Linked DNA regions of Homo sapiens: regions 2 and 3 are each reported to be linked to region 1. The links are microRNA targets in miRTarBase. Many come from high-throughput screens and were not tested one by one. Region 1 holds a microRNA gene; each other region holds the end of a gene's coding sequence.

The links. Region 1 holds the annotated microRNA hsa-miR-5190 (CCAGUGACUGAGCUGGAGCCA, at 2,120-2,140, opposite strand). A microRNA usually pairs through its seed, bases 2 to 8, with sites in the 3' UTR of a target mRNA and lowers its output. Matches are read on the target gene's strand: a 7mer-m8 pairs with bases 2 to 8, a 7mer-A1 pairs with bases 2 to 7 and ends in A, and an 8mer does both.
Region 2: the mRNA of HS3ST1 is a reported target of hsa-miR-5190. Seed matches in the 3' UTR shown: 7mer-A1 at 2,361-2,367.
Region 3: miRTarBase lists ESRP2 as a target of hsa-miR-5190. Seed matches in the 3' UTR shown: 7mer-m8 at 1,130-1,136.

The regions. Positions count from the first base shown.
Region 1 is chr18:13,458,782-13,462,132 of GRCh38, reverse strand. It overlaps MIR5190 (microRNA 5190), which reads right to left and starts at 2,186; the gene lies at 2,107-2,186. All of the region lies in intron 4 of LDLRAD4 (low density lipoprotein receptor class A domain containing 4), which reads right to left. RefSeq lists an enhancer at 229-523.
Region 2 is chr4:11,396,459-11,399,809 of GRCh38, forward strand. HS3ST1 (heparan sulfate-glucosamine 3-sulfotransferase 1) reads right to left here. Exons shown (of 2, transcript NM_005114.4): 2 at 1-3,351. The coding sequence ends at 2,624. Among named protein-coding and RNA genes, the nearest start is that of MIR572, 29 kb to the left of the region's middle. RefSeq lists an enhancer at 327-1,526.
Region 3 is chr16:68,227,377-68,230,376 of GRCh38, reverse strand. It overlaps ESRP2 (epithelial splicing regulatory protein 2), which reads left to right. Exons shown (of 15, transcript NM_024939.3): 15 at 62-1,344. The coding sequence ends at 151. NFATC3 (nuclear factor of activated T cells 3) reads right to left here. Exons shown (of 10, transcript NM_173165.3): 10 at 1,118-3,000. Among named protein-coding and RNA genes, the nearest start is that of MIR6773, 4.6 kb to the left of the region's middle. RefSeq lists an enhancer at 2,891-2,940.

The DNA.
Region 1 (3,351 bases):
TGAAGCCAGCCCACTGCTTTCACAGAATGAAGCTCCAGCTCATCCACCCAGGCAAGCAGTGACCCCATGAGGCAGGAGAATAGGATCTGGAGGAAGGGAACCTAAGGCCGATTCACACCGACTTCCTAGAACTAAATCAAAAGGAAAACCCCAACTTTCCATGCCCAAGTAACACAAGGACCAGAGGCTACTCCCTTGCAACCCTGCCCCCTCCCACTTTTTCTGTGTGGCAGATGAAAAATTGAAAGTACCTCTGACTGGACCCCTCCCACAACCAATCAGGCTGGTCAGGGGCCAAGTCTTGCATAGGAGTATAACTTTGTAACTTCACTTTAGCCTCTGATTGGTCACTTTCTGCAACCAATCAGACATTTGCATAGGGTGTAACTTTGTAACTTTGCTTCAGCCTCTGATTGGCCCCTTCCTGCAACCAATCAGACTGATCAAAGGCCACTAGTTAATTTACATAGGGTGTACACCAAGTAACCAATGGGAAACCGCTAGAGAGTCTTTAAAGCGGAGAAAATTCTGTAACCGGGCTCAGGAGCCGCTTGCTAGGGCATGCTACCACCCTGTGGAGTGTACTTTCGTTTTCAATAAATCTCTGCTTTTGTTGCTTTATTCTTTCCTTGCTTTGTTTGTGTGTTTTGTCTGATTATTTGTTCAAGATGCCAAGGACCAGGACACCCTCAACCAGTAACACACACTCTCCTTCTTCAATGACGTTTGTGTTCCTAGAATCCATTTTCCTCAGTCAGGTACGTGTCCCCATCCCCACGTCTTCCTCGCTCTTCTTGACCTTTGTTTACTATGTCCTCCTACTTCCCCCTGGTTCCCCCAGACTCTCAAAACCCATGCAGTCCCCAAGGCTATCGGTCCTCCTCAGGCCCTGGCCACGAAGACCCCTGCCTACCGATCTTCTGTACTAGCCCAGCACGCGTGGACACATTCATCTGCACGACAGACATCATGGGGCACCTTCTGTGAGCAGGCGCTGGGGAGACAAGGCCAGCCCGCCTCAGTTCCCACGGTACTCAAGAGACAGCAAGCCAGGCCACCCCAGCATGGTGAGGTGGGCACTGTGTTCACCAACAATAAAGGCGGACAAAGGTTGGTGCAGTGGGGGCTGCAGAAGGGCCCCGGCCATGCAGACGGCAGCATGGCAGGCTGTTCCAGGCACACAGAGGGCGGCATGGCAGGCAGTTCCAGGCAGAGCTGCCTACTACACCCCAGTGGGCTGATTCATTTGGTGTTGGAAGAAAAGGGGAGAACAATTTTATTTTTATTTTGCTCTTCAGCAAAATCTATAATTTTGTGTTTATCTTAGGAAGTTTATAATAGTATATGTATATAATATTAAAATAATTAAATACACATATAATAGGGATTATCCCCAAAATATTTTACCAAAGAGAGACACATGTTCCAAAAACTCAGGAGGTATGAACTGTCTGCCTTAAATACCCTCATCACTAATTGTCCTTTTTTGGTCTCTCTCAACAGCACTACCTTCTCATCAGATATGAAGAATTTTCTTTTTCTTTACTCAGCACCAAATCTCTTAGAAAATACAAAACAGACACATGGCTTCGTCAGATGACATGGGTCCACTCTAATGGACTGCTCTAAAACTATCAGTTAAGGACGGGTGCATGGCTCATGCCTGTAATCCCAGCACTTTGGGAGGCTGAGGCAGGAGGACTGCTTGTGCCCGGAGTTCCAGCTCAGCCTGGGCAAAACGGTGAGACCCCATCTCTACAAAAAACACAAAAATTAGCCAGGCATGGTGGCGTGTGCCTGTAGTTCCAGCTACTCAGGAGGCTGAGACAGAAGGATCCCTTGAGCCCAGAAGTTCAAAGATGCAGTGAATTGTGATAGCGCCACTGCACTCAAGCCTAGGCAAGAGAGTGAGGCCCTGTCTCTTAAAAAAAACAAAATAAAAGCTATGAATTTAGGAAAATAATGTTCATTAACTACTAGTTTCAAACATGTCCCTATTCTTATAATATACTGTATCCTTGCAAAGCACCTCTCCTTTGTGTTCCTCTTCAAAAGGAAGCTGGAGAAACTGCAGTGAAATGACAATGACCATGGCGTGACGACGTGGGGGCAGTGGCCCTGGCTCCAGCTCAGTCACTGGCTGTGGAACATTAACCATGTGACAGGGCTGGAGCCAGGGTATGACCTTGAGCGGAAACTTAGGGTATGCTTACCTTGAGTTTATGCACCTCTAACGATGAGACTAGGCTACGATTCATATACTTGCTGCTGATGTAAATATCCTGCACGTGCTCCTTAAAGCGCAAGCACTGCCTGAGAAAATGTAGACCTGGAAGGGTTTTCTTCTTTTTATTTAAGCAATATCTTTCTATAGACAAAGCCATATGTATCTCTTCCCTATTGCTGCTATAACAAGCTATACAAACTCAGTGGCTTAAAACACCGAATTTGACCGGGTGCGGTGGCTCACAGCTGTAATCCCAGCACTTTGGGAGGCTGAGGTGGGCAGATTACCTGAGGCCAGGAGTTTGAGACCAGCCTGGCCAACATGGTGAAACCCCATCTCTACAAAAAATACAAAAATGAGCCGGGCGTGGTTGCGGGCACCTATAATTCCAGCTACTTGGGAGACTGAGGCAAGAGAATGGCTTGAATCCAGGAGGTGGAGGTTGCAGTGAGCTGAGATCACACACTGCACTCCAGCCTGGGCGACAGAGTAAGACTCCATCTCAGGAAAACAAAAACAAAAAGAAAAAAAAAACACCAAATGTTATTTTTTAATTTTTCTTTCTTTTTCAGACTAAGTCTCAGTCTGTTACCAGGCTGGAGTGCAGTGGCACAATCATAGCTCACTGTAACCTCAAGCTCCTAGGCTCAAGTGATCCTCCTGCCTCAGCCTCCGGAGTAGCTGGCACCACAAGCATAACCTACCATGCCTGGCTTTTTTTTTTTTTTTTTTTTTTTTTTTTTTTTGGTGTAGAGATGGAGTCTCACTATGTTGCCCAAGCTGGTTTCGAACTCCTGGCCTCAAATGATTCTCCCACCTCGGCCTTCCAAAACCAAAGTGCTGAGATTACAGGCGTGAGCCACCACACCTGGCCTTAAAACACAAATTTGTTACTTTACAGTTCTACAGGTTGGGAATCCAAAACTAATTTCACTGGGTGAAAATCAAGGAGGTGGCAGAGCTGTGTTCCTTCCCAGAGCTCTAGGGGAGAATATTTGTTTGCCTTTTCCATCTTCTAGAAGCTGCCCACATTCCTTGGCTTGAGGCCCCTTCATCATCTGGAAAGCCAGCAATGGCAAGTCAAGTCCTTTTCACATGGCATGGCTCTGATCTCTCTTTGGTGG
Region 2 (3,351 bases), not on the chromosome of region 1:
TCCACTGACACCTGTCTCTGTTAATGGAATTGGTAGAAGGCATGTTTTGGAGGGACCGGGTGCTATTAGGCTCCTGAGTCACTGCATTTTGGCCCTGTAAGGACAGCCCAGGGTCTACTACAGGGCCTCCTTTGAATTTGACAGTGCTTGGTGAGATCTAGCAATAAATACCTTGGGTAAGTCTGGAGTGATGGTTTCTTACACAGTGTACCTTCTCAATGACTGGCTGGGGTTGTACCAAAAATGAATGAACAGATAGTGCCACTAGGACCTCTGATCCCTTGCTCATGGTAGACTCATTTGAACATTCCTTTAGCCACGACTCTGCACCCCCAAATGAAAACATATTGAATTTACATTCACTGATCATTTTACACTGGACCACCGCCTCCATCGACTATGCCAGTCCCAGCAGCTAGATTATATTCCATGTGCTGGTCCTGTCTTCCTCCACTCCTCCCCGCTGCCTCTTGCATCCACAGTTCATGCTTCTACCAGACCATCCCTGTCAGGGGACAGGAATTTACAGGCAGTTTGCAAAGAGCATCTTCTTCAGTCAGAGACTCTCATTGCAGTTTCCTTTCAGTCACCATATTCCTGAACAGGCTTGGAAACTTGACTTAACCTTGCTGGGCCCTCTTATTTCTTCAGCTCTTCAAGGAGTATGGTAAAAGCAAGATCCAACGATGTGCTGCAGAGGGAGGCTCTCTGCCTATTGAAAAGTACCATGTCCACCAGGGGCCTGCTGTAAATATTTCTGCTACTTCCTCTGGGGGAGATGATGGCTTAATGACAACTTCAATGGATTCTAAAGAGGAAGGCATCCTCTCTGCTCTCTGTTCATGATATGGGGTGGGGCATAGGCCATGCTAAGGTCAGGTCAGGCTGGAGCTGCTGAAACGTACCAAGGTGACTCACTTCCCTGATAACACTGCTGAGAAAAATGCAGGCTTCTTCTTGCCCTTCCTGTATCTGGGACACACCTCTTAGGATGGAAGATATTTGGCACCTGGGAAGAAATGTTAAGTCAGGTCAGGAAGAACTGGCTCTGAGTCTGGGCTTTTCCTTTTGAGTTCAGAAAGAGTTGGGTAAAAACTAAATACATAAATAACCTGTGCTTTGGCTCTGAGTAGCCTCTAAGCCTGAGTTTATAGTCAATGTGACCTTGGGCAAGTTTCTCATGTTCTCTGGGCCTAATTCCTCCTCTTTGAAATTTCCATAATAATATCTGCATCCTGGGGTTGCTTGGAGAAATTTCAATGAGTTCTTAAGTGTAGGAGATGATTAATAACGTCCATTTCTGTCATTTTCCTGCGGTATAAACCATGTCAGGAAGCCGGTTTATTTTGCTTGTTTGTATTTTCTCTTTTACTGTAATGAATGTTTTATTTTTATTAAAATCCAATGGGTTTAATTCTGTAAAAGGCTGACTGCATGAAGAATGCATGAAAAAACTGAGGATAAGAAGGGTTTATGTGACCATCTCCAACAAGCTGGCTGCTCAGGGGCAGAAGTAAAACTGAACTCCAGCCACTCCTCTGGGGGCAGGTACAGTGGTTCTCTTAGGTGCTACCTTCAACTCTGCCCTTTTCTCTTTTTAACTTCAACACTTGGGAACTTACTTTTTCTTTCACATTCAGGACTCCAAATTTAGAGTTGATTTTGAAACATACACATATTTATGTCTCAGTGCATATGGAATATATGTCTATAATGCCAATGTGTCTTTCAGGAAGTAAGCAGACTTTCAGACTAAGCAAAAGACTACTACCCTTTTAGTCAGCCTTTCACAGAACCGACAGGATGAAGACACGCATAGATTTCGCAGTTTCTCTTTTCTATTCTAATTGGCTTTCTGGAGGCCAGCTGCCACCTGGGGCAAAGTATCCAGGTCCAAGATCATTCTGAAGGCCAAGGGTTTAATCCTCTTTATTATAACTGCTGAGATCAGAAGCATGTGCAAATATTCTTTGAGGTCAAGATGGATCCCAAGAGACCTCTAGCCAGTCACTAACTGCTTCTCCATCCTGAATATTGCTTTGTTTACTTGAAGTTTACACATGGGAATGAGTAAAACTGTGACCTCCAAAAATGACAAGGAATCGCCGAGGAGATAAATCTTACAATCCAAGTAAAAATAAATCTGATGATCACAATGAGACATTAAAAATTAAAAAGAGCAATGCAGAAAGGAGAGGGGAGAGAGAGGATTGTAATAGCCATGAAAAACATGTTTTTTTAAGTAACAAAAGAATTTAGATTTTGCAATGATTGCAACACAGACAGCTATTTTGAGTTGGGGGCAAGTTAATTATATTCAAAAAAACATAGCGTCTCCAGAAAAAATCTTTTTTTTTTTTTCAGTGAAATAGTTTAGTTCCTTCATATAGAGACATATTACACAATGTTAACAACCATGAAAAACAATACAAAATGCCCTCCATTTAACAAGTAGAAAAATATAACTAGTATATATGGCAATTGTGAATCTAATACTGTACAGAAGTACTTTATGGATTTTACAAATAAATTATACCTTAAATGCTTTTTTAAAATTCTTTTTCCCCTCAGATGTACACCAGAACTTACAGTAGGAAAGTTTCTGAGCTTAGCTTATTGCAAATCAGTGCCAGTCAAATGTTCTGCCAACAAGCTCGAAGAACTTCTTATTTGGCTCATGAAAATATTCGTGCAGTTTATTGAGTAGTTTGGGATCGACTTGGGGGTGCGCCCGGCCTTTGGACTCATGTAAGCAGCGGTCCCGGCCGCTGTCCCGCAGGCAGTAAAAGCCCTTGGTTTTGTTAAAGTAGAAGTTCGAAGCATTGATCTGCGGCGACAGCTTTAGGAACCTCTCGACCTTTTGGATCTCAGGGAAGGGGTCCCTGATGAGGCGGTCGCCGTCCACAATGTGGATGTGGCGCAGCGGGAAAAAGCGCAGCCAGTTCTGCATGTGCACGTGGTAGAGGCTGCGGTTGAGGGCCTTGTAGTCCACATTGAGCCTGCCATCGCGCACCAGGAACTCCTCGATGGACGGGTAGGGCTTGTGCTTCTGCATGTGGTTGTAGAACACTTGGGTGTAGTCAGATAGCACGCGCTCCGACGGGTCTCGCAGGATGAGCAGCAGCCGGATGGACGGGTTCATGCTGTAGACTCGCTCAGGCACTTTGGGCGACGTGAAATACGCGGGGGTCTTCTCCACTGTGAGCTGGTGTGGCCAGGAGAAGGGCATCTGGCTGAGGTACCAGCCCAAGCCGTGGCTGTAATGCTCCTCCCAGTCGAAGAAGTGGACCTCGTTCTCCGCGGCCGCCACGTCGGGGTGCAGGCTGAGCATCTCCAGCAGTGCGCGCGTGC
Region 3 (3,000 bases), not on the chromosome of region 1:
GGCCGGAGGGCCTGGCGGGTCTGGCTGAGCTCTCTGCCCTAAATCTGTGTCCCTTCTGTAGCTACCCGCTGATGACTACACCAGTCTGATGCCTGTTGGTGACCCACCTCGCACTGTGTTACAAGCCCCCAAGGAATGGGTGTGTTTGTAGGAGAGAAAGCCAGGAGGTAAGAGCCAGCTGATATCCTCGGCGAACATGTCTCTCCTGAGTCCAGAAGACCAGCACCCTCAACCTGGTAGCTTCTTTCTGGCTTGTCAAAGCTCTCAGAAGGTACCTAGAGGAGCCCAAGCCCCAGCTCCATCCTCCACTTATTCTGCCTGTTTCCCCCAAAGACAATGGCTGGACCCTGCATGCAGGGCTGGGGGTGGAATGGGGCTAACCAGCTCCTGATGGCCTGAGCCAGGCATCTTGACTGGCACCTGGAGAGCCCTTAAGTCTGTCCTGGCTGTGGCCCATGCCGACAGATATCGTGGGGCTGACAGGTCCACGGCAGGCTTGCTTTCTTTTATAAAATGGAAGCTCTGGTACCTTCAATGTATGACTCCTGGGAGAATCAAGGGTCCATCTGAGCCTCTGAGTAAAGATCCCAATGTTCTACCTCTCCCTGTCCCTCTTGTAGGGGATAGGGAGGCAGAGAGAGCCAGCCCCTACCCTCAGAGTATCTGGACCTCAGAGACCATGTTGTGCCAGGGGTGGTCCCACCTAAAGATGCTAGCCCCTCTCCAGGTGGGCATAAGGAGTAACAGATGGCAAAACCACAAACTATTTTGATGGACTGTGCTGCAGTATCACCAGAAGACATTAGGGGGCAGTAGGCCCCCACACAAAACCTTCAGGCTTGAATTTTAAAGGGGAGGACTTTCTGCCAACTTTTCTTGTATGCCTTGGGAAAGCCAGTTGCCCTGAACCCAGCAGACACCATGGAATGTCCTTTGCACGCATTAAATGGTACAGAACTGAAGCCTCGGAAGCAATTTGGAACTCGATCTTCTCTTCCTTAAATGAAAAGTTATTGACCAAATGGACTTTTTAAAAGACACAGGACCCTTAACTTTGCCCCAAAGTGAGGGGCTCCACACCAACCCCAGGCGGAGGAACACTCAGACAGATTAAGGATACTGTTGACCTGTCACTGTTTATTATTTCAGCACTAAAACTGAGGAGCCTCAACTGCTGGCTCTTCTTCCCTTTGTATTTGTGTAAGGAGCACTGCACTCCCATAAAAGGTTTTAAAATACAAAATGTACAAGAACACACAATTCCAAGTGCTGTAAACATAACTGAGAACCAGTTCCTTTACTAAACATCCATTTTATAAAACACAAGGTTTCAATTTGAGCCCATCTGAGCCTTAAAGATCCATTCTGAATACCAAAAACAGGGCTTCACAGCCAGGCCCAGAAGAGGTCTGGTGATAATGGCTGGCCCTGGGTGGGGATAGTTTACACCCGGGCAGCAGCACCACACATGAACCCAAAGACATGTTCTTTTTAAAGCTGTTTTCAGCCATGTTTCTCTGTGCATCTCCAGTAAGCAGAAGGCTACCCATTCCATTCCTCAACCCAAGAGCTAGCACAGTTAGAGTAGGAGGGGGTGCGTACTAGCACGTGCCCAGTTGCTCAGTGCTGCTAGTAGAAATTGATTTGCATAGTCCAATGGATGTGTGCTTTAACACCACTATGTTGCACAAAAATTTAAGTCTTTATCTACAAAGCCAAAAAATATTGACTCTTAACACCAAAGCTTTTACAAAGCTGATATAAAACTGCTTACATAGTATACAAAGCTCTATTTTAAAATTTAATGTTTATTTTAAATAGGAAAGCATTTCTAGTGCTACAGGCATCAAGGTATTTAGAAGGCATCAAAATTTGGTGCATAGCAACTCTGGATCATAGAGGCTTTTAATTCTTGAGGGCACAAAGGGTATTGCAAGGGGAACTCTTGCAATAACCTCATGTGAGGCAGCTACACCAGGGGCAAAAGGGTAGGGGCAAGTCTGGCCATTTCTCTGGAATGTCAACCGAGAGGCCAACTTCTTGCCCCTCCAAAGGAAGCTGTGGGCGTCCAACCACAGGCCCAGAAGCAAATCTCACTATCCACATTCTGTGACACAACTCACTTTTCAAGAAAATTTGAAAACACCCAGCTCCAAGAGGGGCCACAGTGATCTGCTGAAGAATAGACCTTTTTCTCTAACTAACTTTAGGGGAGAAATCTAAAATATATTTTGTTTTTTTTAAAGACCATACTTCCTCATCCTGAGTCAACAGCTCCTAACCTACTGACAACAGGTGGTGGGCAATAGGCCAGCTCCCTTTCCCAGACCTGAACTGGCCTTAGTAGAGAGAGTCCTGGCATCAAGGGCCTGCAGTCTCCTGGAATAACAGCATCAGGCCTTCAACCAGCACACTGTCTCACATATAGGCACTCAAAAAATCTGCTTCCTGAATCAATGGAAGTATATTATTTCATTTGAAAGCATACTGCAAACTTCAGAGGCTCTGTAATGGGCCCAGGAACAGGTAAAAAAAATCCCATTAGGGAGAGGGGTAAGGGCAGGTTTTTTTTTTTTTTAAAGTACCCAACTCGGGTACCTCCTTTGGTAGACAGCAGGCTGCAGTTTCTGCTGGGCCCTGCCTTGGACACCAGTCTCACCAGCAGCAGCACCAGGGTGTCTTTGGTGTGGAGGGTCAGGTTATCACTTCTGGATGTGCTCAGAGCCTTCTGGGGAAAAGGCTGGTTTTTAGATCATACAGACAGGACAGGGTAGGCCAGAATCATTTCAGGCTATAAATAGAATGGCAGATAAGCCTTCCATGCCAGTGTGACTCTTAAAACCTTCCCATCTGGAGTCCTGTATTTTCTCTGCCCATGCTGATGTACTGCTCATTTGTGCTTTAGCTCTGCACACAGCCTGGCCTCTAGCTAGAGTTAGAACTGCAAAGCTGCCTAAACCACTGAGACTGGCTTCAAAGGTCACAGAACAGCCAAAGGCA